Linked DNA regions of Homo sapiens: region 1 is linked to region 2. The links come from fine-mapping of genetic effects on gene expression. A gene starts in region 2. The other region holds a variant in brackets. All regions are shown on one strand. Distances are from middle to middle. Region 1 holds the start of LINC03047 (long intergenic non-protein coding RNA 3047). Region 2 holds the start of ODF1 (outer dense fiber of sperm tails 1).

What was found. PIP is the estimated chance that this variant, and not a neighbour inherited with it, causes the effect. A credible set is the group of variants that fine-mapping cannot tell apart.
Region 1: its variant is the best candidate, but not a certain one, in a credible set for the expression of ODF1 in prefrontal cortex (BrainSeq, PIP 0.88).

Annotation. Positions count from the first base shown.
Region 1 is chr8:102,523,618-102,528,862 of GRCh38, reverse strand. It overlaps LINC03047 (long intergenic non-protein coding RNA 3047), which reads right to left and starts at 42. Exons shown (of 2, transcript XR_001745731.2): 1 at 8-42. RefSeq lists an enhancer at 46-265. The variant GGC/C (reference allele first, on the strand shown) is at 2,693.
Region 2 is chr8:102,548,586-102,554,080 of GRCh38, reverse strand. ODF1 (outer dense fiber of sperm tails 1) reads right to left here and starts at 2,492. Exons shown (of 2, transcript NM_024410.4): 1 at 2,034-2,492. The coding sequence starts at 2,353. It overlaps LOC124901998 (a long non-coding RNA gene), which reads right to left. Exons shown (of 3, transcript XR_007061039.1): 2 at 4,272-4,383; 3 at 3,485-3,574. LOC105375684 (a long non-coding RNA gene) reads left to right here and starts at 3,453. Exons shown (of 2, transcript XR_928478.3): 1 at 3,453-3,538.

The DNA.
Region 1 (5,245 bases), 25 kb after region 2:
GCCTTACCAGTCCATCCTCCCACAGCCACCAGGAGGAGTGAGAACGATGCCAGCACAGCTCAGCACACAGCACAGCGCACAGCACAGAGCACGTAGAACACAGCGCACAACAAAGCACACAGCGCACGGAGCACAGCACAGAGCACACACGCGCAGCACACAGCGCACGGAGCACAGCACAGAGCACACAGCACAGCGCACACAGCACAGCGCACACAGCACAGAGCATGCAACACAGCACAGAGCGCACCGCGTGCACAGCACACAGCGAGCACGGACCACACAGCGCACGGAGCACACAGCGCACGGAGTGCACAGCACAGCGCAGGCTTCTGGAGCAGATTCTGGAGGAAGTCCTGGTTCCGCCACTTACCAGCTGTGCGGTTTGGGGCACAGTTCTTCCCCTGCCTTAGTTTATTTATCTACAGAATGGGGTGGGACTAATATTTAGTAGGGTTGCTGAGAATTAAATGAGTTAAATATAGAAGAATATCTTTGAACTTGGCAGGCAGTAGACAAAAGTTTCTTAGAGTTAATATGTATGAAGTGCTTAGTGTTTGGCACATAGTAAATAATATTCGATGTTATGTTTTTCTCCACAAATACGAATTATGTCCTCAGCCACCGTAACTGCCCAAGGGGTTCACCTTGCCTGCTGCCTAGACTGAGCCGATTCATCAAGACAGGGGAATTGCAATAGAGAAAGAGTAATTTACGCAGAGCCGGCTGTGCAGGAGACCGGAGTTTTTTTTATTACTCAAATCAGTCTCGCCAAGCATTCGGGGAGTCGAGTTTTTAAGGATAACTTGGTGAGTGGGGGGAAGCCAGTGAGCCAGGAGTGCTGATTGGTCAGGGATGAAATCATAGGAAGTCGAAACTGTTGTCTTGTGCTGAATCAGTTCCGGGGGGTCCAGGGGCACAAGATCCGATGAACCAGTTTATTGATCTGGGTGGTGCCAGCTGATCTATCAAGTGCAGGGTCTGCAAAATATCTCCAGCACTGATCTTAGGACCAGTTTAAGGAGGGTCAGAATCTTGTAGACTTCCAGCTGCATGACTCCTAAACCATAATTTTTAATCTTGTGGGTAATGTTAGTCCTACAAAGGCAATCTACTCCCCAGGCAAGAAGGCGGTCTGCTTTGGGAAAGGGCTGTTACCGTCTTTGTTTAAATTAGAAAAACTAAGTCTCTCCCAAAGTTAGTTCAGCCTATGCCCAGGAATGAACAAGGACAGCTTGGGGGTTAGAGGCAAGATGGAGTCAGTTAAGTTAGATCTCTTTCACTGTCTCAGTCATGATTTTACAAAGGCGGTTTCACCATCCCTCCCATAAACATGCAGGAGCAGCTAAAGGCAATTTGGTTTTGAATTACATGTTTATCCTTATATCTAAACTAGCAGAAGAATATATTTCAAAATGTAGGAGATGGGGCTGGGCGAGGTGGCTCTCACACCTGTAATCCCAGCACTTTGGGAGGCTGAGGGGGGTGGATCACTTGAGTCCAGGAGTTCAACACCAGCCTGGGCAACATGGTGAAACCCCGTCTCTACAAAAAATACAAAAAAAGTTAGCCGCGCATGGTGGTGTGCACCTGTAGTCCCAGCTACTCAGGAGGCTGAGATGGGAGGATCGTTTGAGCCTGGGAGGTCCAGTCTGCAGTGAGCTGTGATTGCACTGTTGCACTTCAGCCTGTGTGACAGAATGAGACCCTGTCTCAAAGAAAACAAAAGTAGGAGATGGGATTATGGTGCTTACTTTTTTCCTTTTCTTTACTTTGTGCCCTTTCAAATTTTCCAAAGTTTGTATATTGAGCATTTGTTATTTTTGCAACTATGGAAAATGCCAATTTTCTTTCCCCCCAAAAGACAAGAGAAGGCTCCTGGGATGATAATGGTGTAGGTTAGGAGAAACTTGTTCCCGTGAGTTGATTAAAGCTCAAACACCAGGCAAGGCTCCTTGGGAAATGGGTGGACCTTAAAAATTAATGATTCCCTGCTGTTTGTGTCTCAGAAGAAACCTGTGTTTATTTATTGCTCTTCAGACTTGCCATTTCAGCATATTGAAAAGAAACCAAACAGAGAGAAATTAAAAGTGCATGACTCGATTCCTTCCTACAAGCTAAATTGTTCTGAAAATTTCCTCTTGGATTCCCAGATTTTAAGACGCTTAGTCTGCTTCCTGCCCCTAATTGCTCTATTAATTTAATCTGCTCAAAGTCTCCCAAGAGTCTAGGTCATCCGCCTTTGGGGCTGGCTCTGTCTGGTATGGACTGGTCTTCTCCATAGACAGTTTTGCTGAGTTGTTTTACATGTTACCCAACCTTCTACTTTGCTAGTTTTCTCCTTCCAAGAGGGTTTCTCCTGACCTAATTAAATGAGTTCTGGTATTTGTGTGAATTTGCCCATTGAAATGATGTGAACCTATTTTCCTTTTTTCAGTAGGGACCTAGAGCTACACATTTGTCCTAATTTTCCTGTTTTGGGTTCCTGATCATTTATCTTATGAGCACTCTGTAGCTTTATGTGTATCTAGCATAAATTGACTCTTTGCATAAAAACAGACTCAGCAAATTTGTTTGTCTTTCTGAGCCTTCATTTCCTCATCTGTAAAGTGGGGACAAAAACATGTGTATTCAGGCCAGATGCAGTGGCTCACATCTGTAATCCCAACACCTGGGGAGGCCAAGGGGGGGG[GGC/C]CGATCACTTGAGTTCAGGAGTTCGAGACCAACCTGACCGACATGGCGAAACCCTATCTCTACTAAAAATACAAAAATTAGCCAGGTATGGTAGCGCACGCCTGTAGTCCCAGGCTGCAGCAGGAGAATCACTTGAACCCAGGAGGTGAGCTGAGATTGCACCAGTGCACTCGAGTCTGGGCGATAGAGTGAGACTCCATCTAAAAAAATATATATATATGTGTATGTATTTGTTTCCTGGGATGCTGTAACAAATGACCTCAAACTGGGTGGCTTAAAACAATAGAAATGTATTCTTTTATAGTTTTAGAGGCCAGAAGCACAGAATTGAGATGTCAGCAAGGCCAAGCTGACATCTTGGCCTTTGATTCTCCCTCCAAAGAGAATCCTGGAAGGGGAGGATCCTTCCAGCTCTGGCCTTCTCTGACTTGTGGCAACAAAGATTTCACCTTCTGCTTCTATCCTCACATGGCCTTCTTTCCTGTGTCTCTCCTGTTTCAAATCTTTTTTTCCTCTGTCTTGTAAGGACACCAGTCATTAGATTTACTGTAAATCCACGATAATTTCATCCCCAAATCAATAACTCTGTTCTATCTGCAAAGACCCTATTTTCAAATAAGGTCACATTCACAGGTATCTAGAGTCACAATTTGGACATATATTTTGGGGAAACACTATTCTATCACTACAACATATCAATCTTGTTGAGTTGCTCTGTGAGTATTAACATGAAACACGAGGCTGGGCATGGTGGCCAATACCTGTAATCCCAGTGCTTTGGGAGGCCAAGGTAGAAGGACCGCTTGAGGGCAGGAGTTTGAGACCAGCCTGGGTAACATAGTGAGACCCCAGCTCTACAAAAGTTTTTTTTTTAATTAGCTGTGCATGGTAGTGCATGCCCATAGTCCCAGCTACTTGGGAGGCTGTCAGGAGGATCACTTGAGCCTGAGAGATCAAGGCTGCAGTGAGCTATGATTGTACCACTGCACTCCAGCCTAAGTGATAGAGTGAGACCCTGTCTCTAAAAAAAAAAAACAGACGCTGGGTGCGGTGGCTCATGCCTGTAATCCCAGCTCTTTGGGAGGCCGAGGCGGGTGGATCACGAGGTCAGGAGATCGAGACCATCCTGGCTAAAACGGTGAAACCCCGTCTCTACTAAATATACAAAAAAATTAGCCGGGTGTGGTGGTGGGCACCTGTAGTCCCAGCTACTCAGGAGACTGAGGCAGGAGAATGGCATGAACCCGGGAGGCGGAGCTTGCATTGAGCCGAGATCGCGCCACTGCACTCCAACCTGGGCGACAGAGCGAGACTCCATCTAAAAGAAAGAAAGAAAGCAGGCCGATGTGGTGGATCACGCCTGTCATCCCAATACTTTGGGAGGCCAAGGCAGGCGGATCACCTGAGGTCAGGAGTTTGAGACCAGCCTGGCCAACATGGTGAAACCCGGTCTCTAAAGTACAAAAATTAGCTGGGCGTGGTGGTGTGCGAATGTAATCCCAGCTACTCAGGAGGCCGAGGCAGGAGAATAGCTTGAACCTGGGAGGCAGAGGTTGCAGTGAGCCAAGACTGCACCACTGCACTCCAGCCTTGGCAACAGAGTGAGACTACTTCTCAAAAAGAAAAAAAGAAAAAGAAAGGAAGAAAATGATATGGTAATGTGTGTAATGTAGCTAGCATAGAGCTTGACACACAGTGTGTGCTCAACCAATAATAATCACCATAATTGCTATCATCACAAGAATACTTACATTGGGCCAAGCCTTATACCAAGCCTATCTGAGCCAGAACTGGGGCTCCAACACAGGTTGCTGTGGCTTGGAGCCCATGCACTGCTCTGCTGCACTCAATTGCCTTAGTCTCATCTCTCTACTTCTCTGCTGTGACCCAGCACCTCCCCCTCTACCCCTTCCACACTTTGCACATTGACCCAGAGTTATGTGTGGTGGTGTTTATTGGGAAGAATTAGTAATGGAGGATGGGAAGAGAGAGAGAAGCTTCTCTGAGTCCTTGTGAGGGCAGCTGACTTGCCCCAGAGTGGGTGATCTAAGGAGGAAGTCACAGTGTCTTTGTTGCCCTCATCTGGAAAGTCACATGTCACTTCTGTGGCCCTTTATTGACTGGAATTGAGTCAGTAAGCATAGCCCATACTAAAGGGGAGGAGACATAGGTGTCACCCTTTGAAAGAAGTATCAAAGAATCTGTAGACATATTTAAGAACTACCACGCTACCCATGGGGGAGAGATGGCCTTTGTCTAGGAACAGAATCAGGCTCTTTAGCCAAGCCACTATGAGTGGTGCAGAGGCAGGCTGGAGCTGGGTTTAGGAGCAGGGGCTGAGCAGTGCTAAATTGTCCCAAGGTGTTGCAATCCAATGGGAAGAACTTGAATTTGAGGTCAAAAGAAGAGAAGAAGATAAAAAGGGGAGTGAGGAGAGAGGATGTAACTGCATGATTGGTTCATTTTGCCTGCTGCCCAGATAGCCAATGGATCAAGACAGGGGAATTGCAATAGAGAAAGAGTTTAATGCACATAAAGCTGGCTAAACAGG
Region 2 (5,495 bases):
CCCTTCTGGAGAGTGAAATGTCAAGTTGTCAGAAATAGAGCATAGAAATTTCACAAGGTGGTGTGAATTGGAAGAGATAAAGCGGACAAGCCTGAGGTCATTTCTACAATGGACTTGGAGTTATCATTTCCGAGATCCAGAAATTAATGTAAAGACATCACCAGCTTCACATATTGCCTGCAGGCAGAGAAAAAATAGGCAAAGACCCAGACGCTGTCAGGAAGAGCATCACAAACCAGAGAAAACATTACCTCTTGCCTAAACTACACTGCCGAGAATTAAGCTTGAAGCTGTTTCTACTGCATGCCAAGAAACAAGGCTTCTGAAAGAGGCATCAAGAGAGTAGACAGCACAGGACAGAGAGGGATTTTAATTGGTAGAGTCTGGGGATAGGAGAGAAGCCAGGAAGACAGAGGCTGGAAAGACCTGGACAAGGGTATTCAAGTATCCAAAAGTAGGAGGAGAGTGGATACTGATCTGCTCACAAGGAAACCTTAACTTGGACCAAATATTTTAAAAAGAGTCCCTGCCTCACAGTGTGAGCAATTTATGTGACTTGATGCCCTAAGAAATAAAAACAAACATTGGTTCAAAGAGTATAGATGAATTTACAGGTGAAAGCTCCCAGGCTATGAGGGAGGTTCATTCCTGACCATTGGTGGCTGGTGACCTAGACAATAATTATCCTTTTTTTTTTTTTTTTTTTGAGACAGTCTCACTTTGTCACCCGGTCTGGAGTGTAGTGGTGCAATCTTGGCTCACTGCAACCTCTGCCTCCTGGGTTCAAGTGATTCTCCTGCCTCAGTCTCACGAGTAGCTGGGATTACAGGCACGTGCCACTACGCTTGGCTAATTTTTTTTTTTTTTTTTTTTTGTATTTAGTAGAGATGGGGTTTCACCATGTTAGCCAGGCTGGTCTCGAACTCTTGAGCTCAGGTGATCTGCCCGCCTCCGCCTCCCAAAGTGCTGGGATTACTGGCATGAGCCAATGCACCCGGCCTCCTATTGCTTTTTCCAAAGAAACATCACTGTCACTGTTGTCAAGAGACTCTATCTATCTATCATCTATCTATCTATCTATCTATCTATCTATCTATCTATCTGTCATCTGTCTATCAGTTTTTCTGCACTTTGCTTGTTTGACTTAATACATCAATATGTAAGATGCTTCATCAATCCTTTCTATATTTACTTATTATTCCAGTGCATGAATGTATTATTTATTTAACCAGGGACAGCACTTTCAACCATCTTTTTCATCAACAGTAACAGACTAAATGGCATATGTAAAAAGTTAGAAAAGGAAAGTTTTCTCCAGGCAAAAAGAAAATATAATCTAAAACAAAAATTTTTTTAAAAAACTGACTCTTTTTAATTACCCAATTCAATTAAAAAGCCTTTCAAGTCTATCCTGAAAGCTACAACTCAGTGCCATAGTTTATTTGCAAGACCTTTGCTAGAGTTAGAGGGGAGGCCAACATGATAGACCTAATTCCAGATACAAGGTAAGTCTTTGCCTGGAGTGGGGGGATAGGAGAATGATATTCCCACAAAACCAAGGCAATGCCTCTACTGTTCAATTTGCTCTCCTGCTTGTAAAGCCTCTGGCACACATTAAGGATTTGATCTATTATTATTACTTCTCCTGTAGTCATTTCTGTAAGTCCAAATATACTCAAATCACTTTACTCATAACCAGGAAAAATGTTTAGTTTGCTGCTTCCAATGGCTTTTTAATGACACCCCCTGTTTCTTCCCTTCATTAAAGCCGCATTATTTATCATACTGGCATTCTTGCTATAAACCACCGACGACCTTGCCAATCGACATCATTACATTGTCTTTTGAGAACCCTACAATTCCCATCATGGACTCATTTACTCTTCTTTCCTTAAATCTTTCCTAAGTCACCAGGGTCATTATCCTGAACCCTTTTAATCTTTGTTCAACTATTGATTGTCACATATTTTTCCTTATTCCAACTTATAAGGCTAATATACCGACTATAAAAATTTAAAAATAAGTTATTTTACTTGGCAAGCTCTCGCTTCTCATCTTCTATGGCTCTGATGGCTTTCCTCTCCAAACTTCTGAGAGATGGTCGCAGACAGTAAAGCTTATAATCACACAGGCAACATGGGTAGAGATCACACAGGCCGCAAGAGCGTGATCGCTTGGAATAGCACAAGCAGTACGGATATGGGTGCAAGTCACAGCAGCAATAGGGGTGCATATACAAGTCGCACAGGCACCGTGTGCTAAATTCGTCGATGCATCTCAGTTGCCTTAGTTCTCTGTCCACCTTCTTTATGTCCCTTCTGACACTGTCCAAGAGACAACTCAGTGCAGCCATTATGGTCACACCTGATTGTTCTGTGAGTACCTTTGGGAAATGGCACTCCGGGAAAAAATTTGTTCTAAGCCCTTCTCAGAAGTTGCTTTTAAAAATAAATGAGGCACACATGATTCACTTACTTTAAAGCTTGTGTTCTATGACCTCACCACCTTCTGAAGTATGTCATAGTCTTCTGGTTACCATGTGAACTGTACACAGTCATGGTCTCCAGAGACCATCCTCAGAGTTACAGAGCTACTCTCAGAACCATACTCGTGTTGAGATTTCACTCACCTTCAAGGAGGATGGGTCTCCCAAGCGAGCATAGCTCATCGGGGTGCATGGGGCTGGCCACTAACATCCTTGCCTTGTGTGTGCTCTGGGGACCAGCCATGGCTATGACTGTGTGTTTGTTGAACTTGGTGCAGGCGAAGGCAGGAGCTGCCCACGCCTTTCTCCATGACCTTCTAGCTCTAGCCTTGATTGGAAGCTTGGCCTTGCTCCTTTTGTTCTAGAATTCATTCTGTCTCCAGACAGGTAGAATATAAAGAATGTTCTCATCATTCTCCTCCTACCAAGTCATCCTCAAGTCAGCCATTGTCCTTGACCTTCTGAGTTACAAGTCTCTGAGTCCTGCCCATTCTGCGCCAGCTGTGGTCATGGCTGTTCGGGAACCTCATTTCTCTACTGGTTGGGGGTCCTGTCCTTAAGCTCCCATCTGTCAGTCCTCGGGGGCCTGTCCTGGGGAACTACCTCCCATCAACTACACCTTTGGTCTTGCATCCAAGCCTCCGGATGTCTTGTCCCTGAGTGCTTCCCAAATGTTGGTCTTTGATGTTCTTGTAGCCAACCGCCTGAAGATGCTGGAAGCCAACTGCCTGAAACCCCCGCTTCGGCCAGTTTCCTTTACTTTCTGTTCAGTTAACATCCTAGACCTCTGATTCGGCCTCAGATTTGGCTCTCGGTGCCTCTACTCCTCTGGTCCTTTCACCTCAAACTGCGGTCCAGCTCTCGAGTCTCCCTTGTATGAACTAGAGCTCAGGTATTGATGACAAGTGGTTGGATGTGACACTGGTGAGGGAGACAAGGGCCAGGTTTGAAGGGACCTGTAGCCAGACTAAGGACTCTGAACTTTATTTTGAGCCCAACGAAGGATTGTTGATTTTCTTTTCTTTTGTCAGAAGTGAGACAGCCACACTGAAGGTAAGTTGCTAGGGACAATAGTAGTGGGGTTTTCTGCTGCAAGACAAGAAGAGACAACAAAAATCTGGACTGGGGATCATGGCTATGGGGATGGCAAGGAGGAAGCCAATGGGAAAGCCTTCCCCCACCTCTGCCCAGGCCCCATCTAATCCATTTTCCACATTGTAGCCACAGCGACTTTCATATAGAAATCTGTCATTCCTCAACCTTCCCCACCCATCATCCCACTCACCTTAAAAGTCTTCTCTGTCCTCTCAAAAAAAGGACCAAAATCTTTACCAGGTGCTGAGCAATGGGGCCTCTCCCACTTCCCCACTCTCCTCTCCCATCCTAGTATTATTGCAATTCATTACCCCTCAGCCACGATGGCCTTCCTGGAAGACCACTCACTTTCCAGAGGCCGTTCCTTAGTCCCTTGAAGGACATTCCTCATTCCTTCCACCTCATTCAGAGCTCATACACAGGACGTTCTGCCTGCTTAGAAATTGAACTCCCCACCTATGACTTTCATCCATTTAATTCTTAAGGCACCCTTTAGATCTCCCCCTTTCTTGGGGAAGCCTTCTCTGTCTCCCAGACTAAACACTCTCTTAACTTAGGATACATTTCCTTCATGATATTGTTTCCCCAGCTGGACTGTAAGCCACGAGGGCAAGGACCTTGTCTATTTTTGCTTCGCAGTAGATACCTAACACAATGCCTGGCACATAGCAGGTGCTTGAAATGTACTCACTGAATGACCATCTGGGTGAATTCAACAGGATTTAGTGAACAGAGTGAGGATGGAGTGAGGGAGGAATCAGTGGTGACTTCCAGCTTTCAAGCTTGGCAGACTCTTGGTGCCACTGAGATAAAAATAACACAGGGAGAAGAGTAAGTTTGGGGATTTGGTGAACAGGTGGTGCTGGTGACAACTTTAAGGTAGAAATCTGGAGTATTCTGTGGATAAGAGGGTCTGGAATTTGAGGAAAGCCTGGGCTAGAGATATAAATTAGGAAGCCACAATTCCATAGGTAGTTGGAACCCTGGAAACAGGCAAGATAATTCAGAATTTAAAAAGAGAGCTGAAGCCGACTCCCAGGGAAAAATAAGTAGAAATGAGGAGAGTGAAGGAGTCCATGAAAGGCTCATAGAAGGAGTAACAGAGGGCGACAGCCCCCTCAGCTGGAGTCCCTTGGGAGTCACTAGACCAAGCATGGCATTCCCAATGGCTCGATGTTCCCCAGCCTTGACTTAGGAGGCCCTTTTCTGTGCAGATAATGTGTCTTAGCAAACAAGTGTCCCTAGAGGCATTAGAATGAGAGGCTGGCCCCTTGAGTCACGTGGAATGAGTCAAAAAGCAAAGCTGAATGATTCTCCTCTATGGACAAATTCTGACCTCTTTAAAAGTGATTCCACTGTGATTTGATTCTGAGGGGTGGACCCTATTAATAGAAATATGGCCTACTCTTTCCTGAGAGTTAATTGCAGGAGTTGTACAGATTTCTCTAGCTCCAGGTGACAGAGAATTCTTATATCACCTTGAATTCTATCCCTTAGCAAATGTCAGCAAAGATTGAAGCAGGCAAGCTCTCAGTTTAATATTATTATATACACAAGTTCAGGTGCCTAAATACACACATCTGTGTATACATGGTACATTATTAAGATGGGTATAGCTATATTTCAACTAGGATTCTCCCATTATCCCACCTTCCTAGTGATTTTTCTTTTTTTATTTTGAGACAGGGTCTTACTCTGTCACCCAGGCTGGAGCACAGTGGCATGTGCTCTCTGCAGCCTTGACCTCCTGAGCTCAGGTGAGCCTCCCACCTCAGCCTCCCCAGTAGCTGGGGCTATAGCCATGCACTACCATGCCTGCCTAACTTTTGTATTTTTTGTAGAAATGGGGTCTCACCATGTTGCCCAGCCTGGTCTCAAACTCCTGGGCTCAAGCCATCTGCTCACCTTGGCCTCC